Homo sapiens: one gene and its partners. The protein of the gene in region 3 purifies or fractionates together with the protein of the main gene of each other region. This does not show direct contact. Each region holds a gene or a part of one and is shown on either strand. Other genes may lie near its edges. The genes, in order: HADHA, DNAJA1 and MAP1B.

The links.
Region 1: the proteins of MAP1B (region 3) and HADHA purify together in Homo sapiens (affinity purification with mass spectrometry; 2 studies listed by BioGRID, with this or other methods). This does not show direct contact.
Region 2: the proteins of MAP1B (region 3) and DNAJA1 purify together in Homo sapiens (affinity purification with mass spectrometry; 2 studies listed by BioGRID, with this or other methods). This does not show direct contact.

Annotation. Positions count from the first base shown.
Region 1 is NC_000002.12:26,230,906-26,234,659, reverse strand, and holds part of HADHA (trifunctional enzyme subunit alpha, mitochondrial precursor), read left to right. Parts: intron 1-304; coding exon 305-443; intron 444-2,380; coding exon 2,381-2,500; intron 2,501-3,754. UniProt on the Homo sapiens protein: Mitochondrial trifunctional enzyme catalyzes the last three of the four reactions of the mitochondrial beta-oxidation pathway.
Region 2 is NC_000009.12:33,028,229-33,031,982, reverse strand, and holds part of DNAJA1 (dnaJ homolog subfamily A member 1), read right to left. Parts: intron 2,099-3,754; coding exon 1,994-2,098; intron 1,544-1,993; coding exon 1,316-1,543; intron 1-1,315.
Region 3 is NC_000005.10:72,187,374-72,191,127, reverse strand, and holds part of MAP1B (microtubule-associated protein 1B), read right to left. Parts: intron 1-3,754. UniProt on the Homo sapiens protein: Facilitates tyrosination of alpha-tubulin in neuronal microtubules. Phosphorylated MAP1B is required for proper microtubule dynamics and plays a role in the cytoskeletal changes that accompany neuronal differentiation and neurite extension.

The DNA of each region.
Region 1 (3,754 bases), on a different chromosome or scaffold from region 3:
CAAGTAGCTGGGACTACAGGCGCCCGCCACTATGCCCAGCTAATTTTTTGTATTTTTAGTAGAGACGGGGTTTCACCGTGTTAGCCGGGATGGTCTCATGGATCCAGAAGTTTAACACTCTTTATGGAGAAATGATGTTGCTGCTATTGTGCTATTTGAAGCAAAATCATTCTTAACCTTCTATTTGAAGATTTGTCATCAAATATTGATGCATGATAGGATAAGTGTATAGTGAATAAGTATTGAACCAAATAAATTATAGTTTTATCTTTTTCTCTGTTCTCTACTTTTATGGATAATGCAGCATGTTAGCCGCTTGCAAGACCCTTCAAGAAGTAACACAGCTATCACAAGAAGCACAGAGAATAGTTGAGAAACTTGAAAAGTCCACAAAGCCTATTGTGGCTGCCATCAATGGATCCTGCCTGGGAGGAGGACTTGAGGTATAGATATTCTAAAGTTATTGAGACACTGTCCAACTCATTGGTGGCATTCATCAGCTGTAAACCCTTAGGCTACTGCTTTGCCTGGAAAAAGTTTCTGGAGGAGAATCCGCTTTGTTTTTTGTTTTTTGCTTTGAGACGGAATTTTGCTCTTGTCTCCCAGGCTGGAGAGCAATGGCACGATCTTGGCTCACTGCAACCTCTGCCTCCTGGCTTCAAACAATTCTCCTGCTTCAGCCTCCCCAGTAGCTGGGATTACAGGTGTGCATCACCATGCCCAGCTAATTTTTGTATTTTTAGTAGAGATGGGGTTTCACCATGTTGGCCAGGCTGGTCTCAAACTCCTGACCTCAGGTGATCCTCCCGCCTCGGCCTCCCAAAGTGCTGGGATTACAGGTGTGAGCCACTGTGCCTAAATAGCTTTGTTTTTAGTTATCAAACTTCTGGATAGGTGTTAATCCTTAATCCACATGACACAGAGCAAGTGGCACAAAGCAAGTAAATGAAGGTGTGATGTTTTCATTTGAACTGCATCTCTAATGTCCTTTTCAGCTGTAAAAATCTTGTTCAAGTTTGCAGGGCAAAGATTCAGAAGTGTGATCTAGGCTCTTAAGCTACTTAAGTCTGGTTGAGACACATAAAGCATAATATAAGTGCTTTGTCAGTAGTAAAGACGGTAAATAATAGAAGATTTGAGAGAAGAGATGCTTACTAGACCCGAACATGTAGGAAAGAAAAGAAGGGGAAAAGGAAACATTCATTGAGCACTTTTCACATGCTGAACTCTGTGCCAGACACTTTCACATATGCAGTCATTTACCACATAACGTTTCAATGACCAATTGCACATACAGCAGTGGTTCTATAAGACTGTAACACTACATTTTTCTATACCTTTTCTGTGTTTAGATACAGAAATGCTTATCACTGTGCCACAGTTGCCTACAGTATTCAATAGTCACATGCAGTCCAGGTTTGTAGCCCCTTAGGACAGGGGTCCCCAGTTCCCAGGCCATAGCCTGTTAGGAACTGGGCCCCACAGCAGGAGGTGAGCAGTGGGCGAGTGAACATTACCACCTGAGTTCCGCCTCCTGTCATATCAACAGTGGCATTAGATTCTCATAAGAGCTGGAACCCTGTTGTGAACTGCACATGAGAGGGATCCAGGTTGCGCACTCCATTGGCCTCTATTGCCTGATGATTTGAAGTGGAACAGTTTCATCCTGAAACCACTCCCTCCCACCCCACCCCCAGTTCTTGGAAAAATTGCCTTTCACAAAACCTGTCCCTGGCGTCAAAAAGGTTGGGGACTGCTGGACTAGGAGCAATAGGCTATCCCATATAGCCTAGATGTGTAGCAGGCTCTGCCATCTGGGTTTGTGTAAGTACACTCTGCGATGTTCACACAACAACAAAATTTCCTAATGGTACATTTCTCAGAACATATCCCCCTCATTATGTGACACATGACTATATTAATTAAGAAAACCTGTGCCTGGTCCTAAACTATAAGCAGAATTTGATTAACCAGAATATGGAGGGAAAAACAATTCCGCATATGGTATGGTGTGAGCAAAGGCAAAAGCAAAGCCAACTAGGACACTGTAAGTAGACGTGCTTGATTGGAGAGTCCGGGGCTTTTTAACCTGGGGTCCATATAAAATTGTGTGTGCATTTTTCTCTTGAGAGCTTCTCTAGCTTTCAGTAGATTTTTTAGGAGATCTACGGCCCAAAAAGAGGTTAGTAAATTAGAGGAAAAGTATGAAAAAAAGGCTAAAAAGGTAAATTCTAGAAATTATTAAATGCCAGCCTAAGGAATTTCAGTTTATTCTGTGAGCACATTCCTGCTTTATAAATAATCTTTAGACCCTTATCCATCTCAAGTTGCTACTAAGTTACATTTTCTAACATTCTAATTTTCTTTCATTTGTTCAAAGGTTGCCATTTCATGCCAATACAGAATAGCAACAAAAGACAGAAAAACAGTATTAGGTACCCCTGAAGTTTTGCTGGGGGCCTTACCAGGAGCAGGAGGCACACAAAGGCTGCCCAAAATGGTGAGTCTAACATCCCCTTTGTGAAGCTATATGCCCTCTTTAGATCTGTTTTCTTGTATAAAATGCATAATATGGGCATTCATTGTAGAATTAAAAAACCAAATAAAATATGAGTGTACAGGATCAGTGACAGACTTTATTCCTGGTACTTATTTTTTCAATTCCACAGATTTTTTTTTTTTTTTTTTTTTGAGACAAAATCTTGCTCTGTAGCCCAGGCTAGAGTGCAGTGGTGTGATCTCAGCTCACTGCAACCTTCTCCTCCCAGGTTCAAGCGATTCTCCTGCCTCAGCCTCCCCAGTAGCTGGAATTACAGGCGTGCACCACTGCACCCAGCTAATTTTTTATATTTTTTAGTAGAGATGGAGTTTCGCCATGTTGGCCAGGCTGGTCTTGAACTCCCGACCTCAGGTAATCCTCCCGCCTCAGCCTCCCAAAGTGCTAGGACTACAGGCATGAACCACCATGCCTGGCCTAATTCCACAGAATTATTGATCAAGGTCCTTTGTTAGTCTCTGAGGAAGGATAAAGATAACTAAGATGCATGTCTTGCATTTCTGGAGCTTATGGTTTAATTGGTTCCTTTTCCACATAATACCATCTTAACAGTTTTTCAAAACCATGAGTCATATTAATATTTCATTACAAATATAAGAGGCAGACCTTTTCCCTCATTGTCTGATTTGGATGTTCTCACTGCTGTGTTGTATGGAACCAAAAGAGGCTCAGCAGGCTTTGAATTCCAAGGAGAAGGGAAGGACAGTCAGACCTGGATGCTGCAGAGCAATCTTAATGTCAACTCAAGGGCCCACTGAACCTTATAGCTTCTGGCACTGTAGATTCCTCAGTGAAAACAAGGCTCAACAGAAATACTCTTTGCAGGGAAGTTGATCTCAATTGAGCACAAAAGAAAACAAGGTTTATGGTGTTAATTTTCTAATAATAATAATGTGCTTTCCTTCATAGGAATGTCATAAGGATTTATTGAAAGAATGAATATGCATATATGTGTATCAAAAATATTTGCTGAGTTTCTTTCTTTCTTCTTTTTTTTTTCTTAAACTATAGCTGGTATTTGAATGTTGCTAGAAGCCTTTCTTCTAGTATGCCATATAAGCAGCCCTAGCTGAGTTCTATTTTTGTTAAGCTTAAAATTCTTTTTAAAGACTTTGTCAAAACTATCAGGTTTCTCACAGTCTTCTCTAGTTTCAATATGAGAATTTTATTTTATTTTATTTTTGGGACAGAGTCACT
Region 2 (3,754 bases), on a different chromosome or scaffold from region 3:
TGTAATACATTTTAAAATGTTTTTGCAAGTTGACAAGAGTAAAATTTAAAAATTGACAAATCAATCAAATCCCGAGAATACAAAAAAAAGGTTATATAGTTATTTCTAAATCTGGAGCCCAATGGGTTAGGGAAGTGTCAAGTCTAAAAAAATGAAAGGTAGTCTATCAAATCAATTAACGGAGCATTTAAATATAATAGATGGGCAAGTAAGCCAATTAAGTGGGCCAATACGCTTATTTAAACTAGCCCAGGCCAGGTATGGTGGCACACACCTGTAATCCCAGCATTTTAGGAGGCCAAGGCAGGCAGATCATTTGAGGTCAAGAGTTTGAGACCAGCCTAACATGGTGAAACCCCATCTCTACTAAAAATACAAAAAAAATTAGCCAGGTGTGGTGGTGCACACCTGTAGTCCCAGCTACCTGGGAAGCTGGGGCAGGAGAATCGCTTGAACCCAGGAGGCAGAGGTTAGAGTGAGCCAAGATCGCATCACTGCACTCAAGCCTGGGCAACAGAGCAAGACTCTACCTCAGAAAAAAACAAACAAACAAAAACATGCCCATTGGTTTAAAAAATAAACATGAGGCGGGGTGCGGTAGCTCATGCCTGTAATCCCAGCACTTTGGGAGGCCGAGGCAGGTCATCACCTGAGGTCAAGTGTTCGAGATCAGCCTGGCCAACATGGTGAAACCCCGTCTCTACTAAAAATACAAAACATTAGCCGGGCATGGTGCTGGGTGCCTGTAATCCCAGGTACTTGGGAGGCTGAGGCAGAAGAACTGCTTGAACCCGGGAGGCAGAGGTTGCAATGAGCTGAGATCGTGCCATTGCACACTCCAGCCTGGGAAACAAGAGCGAAACTCCGTCTCCAAAAAAACCATGAATTTTTATGAGACCCAATTCTTCACCTAACTCCCCTTTCAAATCCTTAAAAGTATGCCTATCCCTTGATCTAGTAACTCCTAATTAAGAATGTGTACAATTCTAATGTTTTAAAAGATGGAAGAACTATGGTTTAACAGGAGAGAATTAAGTTTGGAACACTATTCAATCATTTACAGGACCACAGATTTCAAAAGATGATCCTGTTATATTAAATGAGGAGATTCCTAATATATTCTGTATTAGTAATATACCAATGTGCAAAATTATGTCTGGATAAAAGAACATTATTTACTAAGCTGCTAAGAGTTATTTCTGATTGATAGGATCATATATAACCTAATTAAGAATGATTTTTAAACAATTATAAAATGTTAATAATAAATCTGCCACAGCATTCAAGACTTCAGAATAAGTAACTCAGAACTCACCTTTGTCAATATGAACTTCTAAAATTTTCTTCTCTCGAACTATCTTCCTTCCGTTGCAGCTTTTACATCTATCTTTAGGACTGATCCGCTCCCCATGGCCCTGGCACTCCATGCACACAGACTGAATTTGCTGAACCATTCCAGGTCCTATCTGATGAATTCTTATTTGCATTCCAGTACCTCGGCAATTGGGACAGCACTCTACTGCTCCTTTCTTACCTCCTCTACCTAAATTTAAAAAGAAAATTAAATAATGTATGAATTAGTAGTGTATACAGTAGTAAATGTTTTAAGAAGACAATTCCTAAATGCTATACTTTTAATATTTTCGAAGCCTGATGGAATGCTACCCTCTGAATGTACAACTGATGAGATCATTCCAATGAGTTTCATTCTTATTAGAACACACTTTCCAATAAATTTTACTTATTACAAAAAAGATACCAAACTAGCTTGATCCCAACTGTATTTAAAATATACACAGAAAAAAGTGCTGATATTTCTTTAGGTGGGAGGTTTTCAGTTGGTTTTCTTCATATCTGCCCTCTCCTCCCCCAAAATCTAGGTAGTGTACATGAATCAATTTTACATATCTATCTAGAAGTCTTAGCTCCATTTTCAGGTGTCATATTAAAGGTGCTTAAAAACAAAACAAAACAAAACAAAAAAACACCGTACCTTCACATTTGTCACAAATCACATTCTTTTGCAGAGCCAGTTTTCTTGTTGCACCATTATATAAGTCTTCTAGGGTTACTGAGAGCTGATGTACAACATTTTTACCTAAAACAAAATATTTCTCATTGCAAATCTGTTTAAGATGCTGGATCTTATTTGTGCTAAAGGCACTATAAAGAATGTGGCAAAGAATAATAAAAGATGAGCCTCACAGGGTACATCTGTTGACTACCTACTATATACACAGAATGTTCACGTTATCACAGATGATCCTCAAACTGTGATGTAATCACAGATGAGGGAAAATCAGGTCAGAGATTAAATATTTGCTTAAGGGCACAGACGTGGCCATCTTGGAAATATGGTAAGCAAAAGCATTACCTTCAAAGTCACTTGAGAAAAACCAATGTTATTTAAAAGGGCACATTTCACAATAATCCAAACATTCATTTCTGTCACAATATATTTTTTGAAGCTTTCACTTCGTACCGTATTGAGCAACATGGCCAATTACTTCATCCAAAAATTCTGTAGCACAGTAAATTCTCATTAATCAAGATTGGCCAGGGAAGCTGATGTATTTATTGAGTCACCACAGAAGAGTATCAATTTCTACTTCTTCCTGATTTAGTAGAAAACAGCCCATTTACTGCTGGGCCAGCACTGGTTGTTTTGAAGGCCAAATTTCTCATACCTTTTATAATAGCATTGCCCAACAGAACTTTCTGCAGTGATAAATGTTTTATATCTGTTCTGTCCAACGTAGCAGCCACCAATCACATGTGCTTATTGAGCATGTAAATGTGGCCATTTAGACTAAGAAACCGTATTTTTGTTTTTGTCTTAAATTAATGGAGCCACACATGGCCAGTGGCTACTAAGGAGTGCCTTACTTCACTTAAATCAGAATAGGAAATGGAAGGTCAAGATCTCATAAGGACACTGAGGTTAGAAGTATGAAGTCACCTGCTAGTAAGTTAGTAAGTTCCTAACTAGTGGTCCTTCCACAAGGACTTATTCACAACAATATTATTGCCTTTCCACCAACTGAAAAAAGTTCTCAAACTCGTTTCTGTACAATATGCCTAATGAACATTTTAACTTTCTAATCAAGCATGAAATACCATTAATTATGTCCTTCTGCTTATAGTTCCACCTTTAGTTTTGGCACGCTAAAATCTAGCTGCCCTTATTTTGAACAGTGTTGAGTATAAGGAAGGAAAAATAAAGCTTCTAGAGCTTGATGAAGCGCATTTCCCCAGAAATAACCTCTCAATATGATCATAAGCCACATAAAAGAGCTTGCCAATGTTAACCTGCAGGTTCTTTGTAAGGTAAGTGAAAAACCACCACTACTTTTTTGTGGACAAATTCTAACAATTTACTAAGCAAGTCATTTGGATTGTGGACTTTCTTTTTAAGGAGTTTAAGTATCTTAATAAAAACATAATCCTTTCCTTGAAGATCTTTAAAGAAAAACTGAATAAACAATTTCCCAAATCTTTCTGAACCTTAAGAAGCTCAAAGTGAAATTTAATGGCTTGGCCATTCATTCTAAAACTGGTTCTGCTCATCAGCCCTTATTTGTATACACTATACTGGAAATAAAGTGAGACTGATTTCTCTTGAACATTTTACTCCTATAAGCAGTATTTCTAGAGCCCATAGGCCACTTTCCTGATAAACATATTAAATACATAATTTTGACACAATAAAGCTGAAACAAGAATAGATAGATGGCAGGCAACGAACCAGTTTTCA
Region 3 (3,754 bases):
TCAACACATGTTATCTTCCTGGAGTGGGTACTTCAGATGTAACCACACTGAGTGCTACCCTGGTTCTTACAAAGTTGGATGACAGATGCAACAAGGAGGAATATGCTTTGGGACAAAGATAATCTTTTTTGTTAATTACTTTTTCTGATTAAATGCAGGCATACTGGAAGAGGAAGGAAGATGTAAGAAATAAATGGTTTTACTGCAGATGAGATTAATGAAACAAGATTTGAATTTCTAAACCATGGCCTACGAACTACATTTCCTTTTTGATTAGGTTACTTGCTTGGCTGATGAGGAAATACAGTAGACAGTGTATCTCTGGGTTTTAGCCAGACATTTAATAGGACCCCTGAACAGTGTGATAGTAGAATTAGGTGGATTTCCAGCCAGCCATATAAATAGTGCTGCTTAATGTCAACCTGGAGGGAGGTCTATGATGGGCTGCCTCAAGTCTCATTTTCTGGCCTGTATTCACTTGGATAAAAATGGCGAAGGCATGCATATCATATTTGTGCATGGTATGAAAATGGGAGACACAGCAAAATGTGGAATGGCAGAATTAAGGTATTTATAAAAGCTCTTGACATTGGGATGATGGTGGCTAAGTCAATTCTAACAGGATGGCATTCTAAAGGGATAAATGTAAGGTTCAATAAACCAGCAGGGTAAACTACAGGATTGGGAGATGTGGCTTAACAATAATATCCATGGAAAAGACTCAGGGATTTTAGTTGACAGTCAAATGGATTTATCATGAAGCCAAAGAAGCTTAAACTTCAAGGTACCTCATTGGCATGGCCCTGTACTTAACTGTATATTAATAATTGTTTCATTTTTCTTAAAAAAGAGCCCTTAAATTATATAAATTGTCGAGCCCCTCAAAGCCTGCATCTCTTCCCCATTGACTTCCCCATTGACCATTAATGGTGTATGGTGATGGTCAAAAGTCACTTTTAGACTTCTTTAATAGAAGATGGTATTGAAAACTATAGACATTATCAACTCTCACAATCCTAACCTGGTCAAATGACTCCTGAATAGGGTGTCCAGTTTGAGTCATGACATTTTAGAGAAATTAGACCAACAAGCAAAAACCTGAAACAAGTCTCCCTTACTGGCTCCTTCCTCTTGGCCTTATGACCTGTCAACACTGGACCTGGGCCCTTTCTCTTCTTAAAATGTTTCTCACTCTAGGTCACATCATGTGTCTTCTGGGCTTCAAATACCTCTAATATGCTAATGGATTTCAAATTAGTATCTCCAGCCCGACTCTGAGTTCCCTGAGCTCTGTTCTCATAAATCCAACTGTCTGATTTCAAGGCACTAAAACATGACCAGGACTAAACTCCTGAATTCCCCCCATACCCATCCCATCTCCTCTTCTTTTTATTTTATTTTTTTAATGTTTTAAGTATAGTTTTTTTTTTTTTAAGAGACAGAATCTTGCTCTGTTGCCCAGGTTGGAGTGCAGTGCAGATTATAACTGAGTGCAACCTAGAACTCCTAGCCGCACGTGATCCTCCCACTCTGGCCTCCCAAAGTACTGGGATTACAGGCATGGGCCATAGCACCTGGCCTTCACCTCCCTTTCTTGACAGAGGAACAAGTTTGAAGGACAGTGAGCAGGGTTATGAAGAACTGTGGGTAAAACTGAAGATGATTAATCTGAAAGGGAAAAAATCGGCAGTGTTGGTGAAGGGTAACTAAGACACTGTAGGTGGGAAAGGGATCACATCACTTCCTTGAAGATACAATGAGACAAATAAGGAAAAACTTTCCAACACAGAGACTGAAAAATGTCCCCAGGAGATGATGATTTCACCATCCCTGGATTTCAGGGAGGAGTGGGGTTAGCCAGACAATTGTACCGTCTGTTAGTTCTGGTTTTGTTAATTGATCTCCAGTGATTAAGACTCCAAAACCTGAAGCTCAAAGTGTACTGATAGTTCTATTTTTTCAGTCCATTTATTTTTAGCTGTTCTTATATTTTTTAAAAAGTATCATTTTTGTTTGTCCCAAATTGTGGTTTTGGTTTCCCTGGAGTTAACTAGTATGTTTCAAGGACTGGATAAAAGGAAAAGAGCTGGACAACAAGTGGTCTTCAAGGTCCGTTTGTTATTCAGTTACTCAACCATTTTTCCAAGGCAACAATGGGCAATCCTAGCTCCAAAAGGCTGATAACCACTGGTCCAGTCCAGTGGTTTTCAATTCACTTTAGCTGTGGCATCCTTTCTTTGTGGGTGGCAGAAGAGAATATGACATGGTCTCTGACCATAATGATACCTGCCTGAGTATAATCAAAATATGTGTCCTCCAGAACCTACCCCAATAAGTATAAACCCTGGGGAATCTGCCCTTCCACGGAACTCGAGTTCTTCAGTTAGGGCAAATTTTTTTTTCTGTAATTAGTGGCAAAATCTGACACGTGCACAGTCCATGGTGCTAAAATTTTGCTTCCATAATCTAGTAAAAATGATTAAGCAGCAATATTCATAACAACCTTATTTAAAGAAGGGGAAGGAGGGATATTATTTGAGATGCAAATATGCCAAATCGTGTTACTTCCTTATTGAAAATCTTGGCAATGACACTTTTCTTTACATATTTCCTTTGTCTGGTTTTTCGGCAAAAAAGACAAACCAATGACTTGGGTAGAAACCAACCACTAGAAAATAACTACAGAACTGCACAGGAATGTGGAAAGTGCCCATGTGCATGCAAATGAGCTATAAGCAGGCCACTTAACTGCTCACCATGTCATTGGGCCACTTCCAGCCTTCTGCAGCTTTCTCTCTTCCCTGAGGCAAGATGCTAATAATGTGTGTGACCCCAGAGCTACTAGACAAATGCCCACCTGCCTCCGGGTACAACATGCACATGGGGACATAATCTTGCAAAACATTCTGACATTATAGTGATCAAACAACAACTTCAGGACAGTAGGCAGAGTGAGAATTGTAGCCCTAGCTTTGGAATTTCAATGCAATTGAACAGCGGCTTACTAGGCCTTTACTATGTGCAGGTGCAATGGATACCGAGATGAATGAGGCAAGATGCGTGAACTCTAGCGGCCTTGGAAGAAGACACAGCCAAAGCTTGCATTTTGAAGTGGTAAAGATGAACCAACTGTGAGTGAGCTCTGAAGCCTCTGAGAAAGGAGCTGCCTGCCTGGGGGATCCCATCCTGGTATGTGTTTCAAGATGCAGATGACGCCACACCTTCTGACAGCTGTGGCTTCAAAAATGTTCCTTTTCACAGTTTTACATTCTCCCCACCCCAGTGGCTGGAGAGTGAACATTATTATGCCTTCTGATCAGTGTTTTTAAAGAAGCCTCCAGGTGACTCAGATGAAGTTGGGCAGTGTGCTTACAGTTCTTGCCAGTGATGAAAAGTACAAACAGAGCTTTCTCTGAACCTCAGGGCCAAGGAAAATTAAGTGCAGAAGGACACGTGGCCCTTCACAGTACACATGAGACAGACAAGCCACCACCTCAGAAAGACAGTTTTAAACAGATGTGGGGACTCTTCTTATCAGAACATCCCTCAGTCCCTCCATGTAGAAATCTGCTATCGGCCACAGGCAGGCCCCAACCTGCTATGGGGATGGGTCTGAATTGTTTCTGTAATTGCTATAAACATGTAAGCTAGATAAACAAGGTGCATTACTTTGGAAAGTTTCCCAGCCAGGATAAATTCCCAAGCAGAAATAAGCATATCAAAATCTTTGATCTCATTTTACAAAATACGACTA